Linked DNA regions of Homo sapiens: region 2 is linked to region 1. Evidence: fine-mapped expression QTL. A gene starts in region 1. The other region holds a variant in brackets. All regions are shown on one strand. Distances are from middle to middle.

Region 1 (2,919 bases):
TTTTGTTTGTTTGTGTTATTATTGTTGTTGTTGTTTTGGAGACGAAATCTTGCTCTGTCGCCCAGACTGGAGTGCAGTGGCCATGATCTTGGCGCACTTCAACCTCCACCTCCTGGGTTCAAGGGATCCTCCTGCCTCAGCCTCGGAGTGGCTGGGATTACAGGCCCGTTCCACCACGTCTGGCTAATTTTTTGTATTTGTATAGAGACAGGGTTTCACCAGCCTGTTGGCCAGGCTGGTCTCGAACTACTGACCTCAGGTGATCCACCTGCCTCAGCCTCCCAAAGTGCTGGGATTACAGACGTGAGCCACACACCCGGCCAATCCCCAATTCGTTAAATAAGAATCTGCAACTCAGTTTCCCTGAAGACTATTAAGAGGTCATGTTGATGCAGCCCAAAGATATGGTTTTGCCTATTTATTCTTCGGGAGAAACAAATACAACTTCTGAGAGCTCGCTTCAGAAAAATGCATGCATGGACACGCAAATATTATACATACAAGTTAGAGGTTTAGAGACCATTACAAGCTAGTTCACGAATCCATAGCAACGAAACAAAAAACAAGACAGAGAAGAAAGACATTTCAGGGGAAACATTTTCCTCGCTTGTTGGGGGTGGGGGTGGGGCAGAGTCTTTGGTCGTTTCCAACACCACACAGTCCACCACGATGCAGGGTGAGCTTTGAGAACATTCAGCAGGGCGGTGATCAATGGGGTGAGGGATTAACTCTGTTTGTCTCCTAAGCACTCTCCCTGCCCACCTCCCAGACCCCTCACTTGGGTGTGAAAAAAAGTGTGAGATGAAATCAGAGATCCCTAACTCCCCCAGTTCTCTCCAAGTCAAATGTCTTCTCGCCCTGGGCTTTTTGTTCCCTAAAATGAAACTTCGCCTCCCGCCACAGGATCTGGGGTGCTCCTGCTGCCTCCAGAGAAGAAGGGGGCGCTGCTCCGTCCGACCCTGCCTGCTGCAGGGACGTGCGGGGGTGCTCTTTCCCCTGCTCCTCGGGCACCTCCCGTCTCCCTCCGGGTCAGGGCAGGGTCCCCTATACCCGCTCCCTCCGGCCGGTGGGCCCCGCTCCCCGATCACGCGCGGCTCACCTGGCAGCCCCGGCGAGGCGGACATGCGCCCAGCGTGCCTGTGCAGCCTAGTTGGTCCCGGACCGCAGACCTGTCCCGGGGAGGCTGCGCACCGCCCCGCCCCTCCCACCCCTCCGAGGCCCAGCGAGCAAGTGCGTGTTCTCGGGTCCTCGCCCCGAGCAGCCTGGCCAGCAGCATCCCGCCTCGCCCACTTCCCAGTAGACACAGGGACAGCGGCTTCCACTCCCGGGACCTCTGGACATCCTCCATCCCGGTTTGGCGGGAAACTGACCCAGGAGAAAGTGTTTGCAGAGGTTCCAAAAAACCAGCCCGGCGGGAGGGTTGTTGCCCCAGGAGGGTTGTGGCCGCCTTGTCTTGGTCCAGAAATTTCACCACTCTCCTACAGCCCAGTGCCTCTTTTTTTTTTTTTTCTTTTGAGAAGGAGTCTCGCTCTGTCGCCCAGGCGTCCAGTGCCTCTTATTTAGCGTGGGATGGAGGCGACTTACTGAAGCGTTGTCATTTCCCTGTATCCAATTACAACCCTGCCCTCCAGCGCTTAGCAAGGTGGCTTAAAAATAGTTTCTATCCCTGCAAAGAGCGTTTGTCTGTATCTCCAGATCTAGGGAGTAGGTTGCCTTCTTGCTACATAACTTAGGATTCGCCTTTTCTCTTCTCTGAACCTCAGCCACATCGTCCAGTATACTAGCGCCTCCCGAACCGTTGAACTTCAAGATCTCTTCCAGCATCAAAGAGTTCACTGTATTAGCGAATGGGGGTGCTTGGAGAATGCCCCTCTTCGCTCTTCCATGGACGGGCATTGAATGTCTCTTCTGCACTTCCATGTTGATGGGCATCAAACACCATGTATAGCCCATCCTCTGGGAATGCCAGCCAGCAGGAGCAAGAATGTTAGGTTAGGTGTCCCACCAGGGCCCAGGTGGAAAGATTCCGCCCTGGCTGATGGTTGGGATAGCCCTAGTTAGGCATTTTTATTATCATGCTTATCATTTTGATTATTTGAATTCCAGCCTCTCCAGGAAAATATTTTGCATTAGGAGAAAAAATGTTCTCTAATTTTACTATGTTTAATCATTTTTTCAATTCTTCATCTGGAAATAGTTGACCCTGTTTTGTTCCCACCTATGCATTGATCAGACATTTGCTGTTTGATTATTCTGTGTCAAGCACCGTGGAGATATTGAAGAATAATACATAATCTTTGCTTCCAGGAGCTGATGTCTTATAGGAAAACAAGAAATAAATTAAAAACATGATTAGGGCTTGCCACTTGTAAATAAGGGGCTGGGAGGGGACTAAACCCAAATGAAGGCTTTCTGAAGTAAAAGACATCCCAGTGTTTTTCCATGGTGAGCAGGATTTCCAGCTAACGAGGAAATGACTTAAAGAGGTTATTTGAAAAACAAGTACTGGGTCCTAGAACTCTAGACATGGAAAGGACATTTAAAAATATCCAGTCCTGTAAAGTTAAAATTGTGCAGGTGCTATGGAAAAAAAAAAGTATAATGGTTCCTCTAAAAATTAAAAATAGAATTATGACACAAGCCAGCAATTCTGCTTCTGGGAATATACCCCAAAGAATTGAAAGCTGAGACTCAAACGGATACTTGCACACCCATGTTCATAGCAGCATTATTCACAATAGCCAAAATGTGGATGCAGCCCAAGTGCCTATCAATGGATGAAGAAAATGTGATGTATACATTCCATGGAACATTATTCAGTTTTAAAAATGAAGGAAATTCTGACACATACTGCAACATGGAGGAACCCTGAGGACATTATGCTAAACAAAAGAAGCCAGCCACAAAAGCACAAATACT
Region 2 (2,919 bases), 27 kb after region 1:
TCATATAAAGCCACTTCTCTCCCTCTGGAATTAGGAAATGGCACCACCACCACCCGCATGCCTTTCTCACACATTAAACCCATTCATTCATTAAATTGTTACACATCTGTTTAATTATAACATCTCTTAAAATTTAACAAACCCACCCAGTTTTTCTCTGTCTCTACTGAACCTCCCCCTGCCCCAGCTTGGCCATCATCATATTTCATCTTCACCAGTCTCCTTCTTTCTCCATATCATAGCCACAGTGGTCTCCCCAATCTACAACCTCATTATACATGAAAACCTCTACATAAAACCATCAAATGGCTCTCTAGGGTGACCAGTTGTTCTGAATAGTCCAGGACTATTTCAGTTTGGCACTGAAAATCCTGTGTCTTGGGAAAGTTCTCAGACCCAGGAAAACTAGAGTGGTTGGTGACCCTATTTCAAGTAAAGCACAAGTTCTTAGTCTGGTTTATAAGACGCTTTGTGCCTTTCCTGACCCCCTAATTACTTTATTAAATGTTATCTCTTGTCTCTTGCCTACTCACAATCTGTATTCCAGTGATGTTAATTTTCTGCCCATTACAAGAGAATTCCATCTAATCTTTTGCATCTCCAGGCTGTAGTACTTTCCTGTCTGAAAGATGTCCATCGTCTGGCTTCCTTTCTGCTCCTCTGGTCCCCTGTCTATGCCATCACACATTCTTCCTAGGTCCTACATGTTATTTAGGTTTAAATTTACACATTTCTTTCTCTAGAAAGCCTTTTCTGAACACTCAATATGTTACAGCACACCTCCCATGAGCACCCAAAGCTCCTGGGATTTAACATGGTAATTTCACTTATGTTCTTTATTATAATGACTATGTTTGTCTTTTGAAAAAAATTTTTAGATGTTATTGTCCTTTGCCATCAGATTCCCTAAGGGAAAGAACAATGGCTATGTTGCTGCGCATTGTGTTCTCAGCACCTAGTAGTGTGTCTGGCACATAGAAATTGATCAATACGTATCTTTTAAATGCAAAAAAAGGCAACTGAATGACAGCCCACTGGATAGCTCTGCCTGGTTCTTTCCCAGGCAAAGTCACCTCCTGTCTAGCATCCCCCTTCCCCCAACTCTCAACTTCTCAGCTTGCTCCTTCTTCTGCATTATTTCTCTAAATAAAGATATGCATCTCTTGTCTTGCCCAAGACAGACATCTAACAGGCATTCCTTTTTTATCCACCTCCTACCTTCCACCTCCAGACAATCACTACATTCGATCACTTCTCACTTTTGCATGACTCAAGAATTTGCTTACTTCTCTACCACTACCCTGGTTCTCCCCCATCATGAACAGAATGCTAATAACCTCCCACCTGGCTTTTTACCTTTTCTACATTTTCCTTTGTAGACACCAGTTTTCACACTGTGGACAAGATGATCTTTTAAAATTACTGCTGATCTTTTCAATTTTATCTTCCTTTACACTTTCCTTCCTTTTCTGGCCCCTCTCTTGGAAGCCTTCCTGATTACTCAGGGCTGGATCTGATGTGTTCCCATGGTGAGTGGTACATAGTCGTAAATGTTGCA[T/C]TTATAAAATTATCATAAAATTACCTGGTGATGCATGTCAGCTTCCTCCCCTCCAAGGTTAATTCTCTGATGGCAGTCTACAGTTTATCACTTGCTTCACAGAGTCCAATGTCCAGTGCTCAATGGGTGCTTGTAGCACGAGTCAATGAACGGCTCTTTAATACAGGACATTCACTGCTTATCAGTGAATTATTCACATATATACAATGGAGAAAAAGGAACACTGATAAGGTTAAGGTAAACATCAATCGTATCATTTAGAATTATCAGACCTATTATTCTGATTCAAGTGGAAATAAAACTAGCCAGTTAATACTCATGTATTTACATAGGTAAATACAAAAGATAGTATAAACACAGAATTTTTGTTTGTTATTCTTTTTTGCCTATCTGATTTAAAAGACAGCTGTACATACTATGTCTGTGTTGATGGGGACACAATGTATAAAGACGTAATCTGTGACAATAATAACATAAAGAGAGGCAGAGCTATACACGAATGGAGTTTTCGTATACCATCAAAACTAAGTTATCTGCTTTCCAGGTGAAGTTTACGTACATGTGTCACTCAATTCAGAGATTCAGAGTGGAGGTAAGGAATGAAGGGTTCAGTCTGTGAAAAAAACCAATCCACGGTAGGGTTGAACATGAATCTTCCCTTAGTAGCGGTACTGCAGATGTGTGTTTTGCTTGCTCTGTTGCCACAGGCTGGAGGGCAGTGGCTCACCGCAACCTCCACCTCCTGGGTTCAAGTGATTCTCCTGCCTTAGCCTCCCGAGTAGCTGGGATTACAGGCACACACCAACGCACCCGGCTAAATTTTGTAGTTTTAGTAGAGACAGGGTTTTTTGTTGTCCAGGCTGGTCTCGAACTCCCGACCTCAGGTATCTGCCCACCTCGGCCTCCCGAAGTGCTAGGATTTACATGTGTGGGCCACTGCACCCAGCCCAGAGAAGAAAAACTTCTAAAGGGAATAAATCATCTCATCCAAGACTGATATTCTTATATCGTATGTAATATATTGTTACAGCTATTAGCATAGCCAAATTGTAACAATATACTACATATAGATGCTAAGCCATTAATATAAATGACTTGCTATATTGCTCTCAACAATTTGAGATTTGTCTTACTCAAGCTTTTTACCCCTTGTTCTAGCAGGTACATGGTTTTTATAATCCTTGTGGATTTGAAATCTAAGACATCAAAACTAAAGTCAAAAAGACATATCTAATACCAGAATAAAAGCACAGTCAGATGTCTGGAAGATGAATCAGATTTCCAGGTAACTGTCAAACACTTAGTCTTTTTTTAAAAGATGGGGAAAAAAAATTCACAGACCATAATTTTCTCTACATTAA

Evidence for each region. PIP is the estimated chance that this variant, and not a neighbour inherited with it, causes the effect.
Region 2: its variant is fine-mapped to the expression of OXGR1 in lung (TOPMed, PIP above 0.99).

Annotation. Positions count from the first base shown.
Region 1 is chr13:96,993,199-96,996,117 of GRCh38, forward strand. OXGR1 (oxoglutarate receptor 1) reads right to left here and starts at 1,278. Exons shown (of 4, transcript NM_001346194.2): 1 at 1,100-1,278.
Region 2 is chr13:97,019,793-97,022,711 of GRCh38, forward strand. No RefSeq gene overlaps it. Among named protein-coding and RNA genes, the nearest start is that of OXGR1, 27 kb to the left of the region's middle. The variant T/C (reference allele first, on the strand shown) is at 1,559.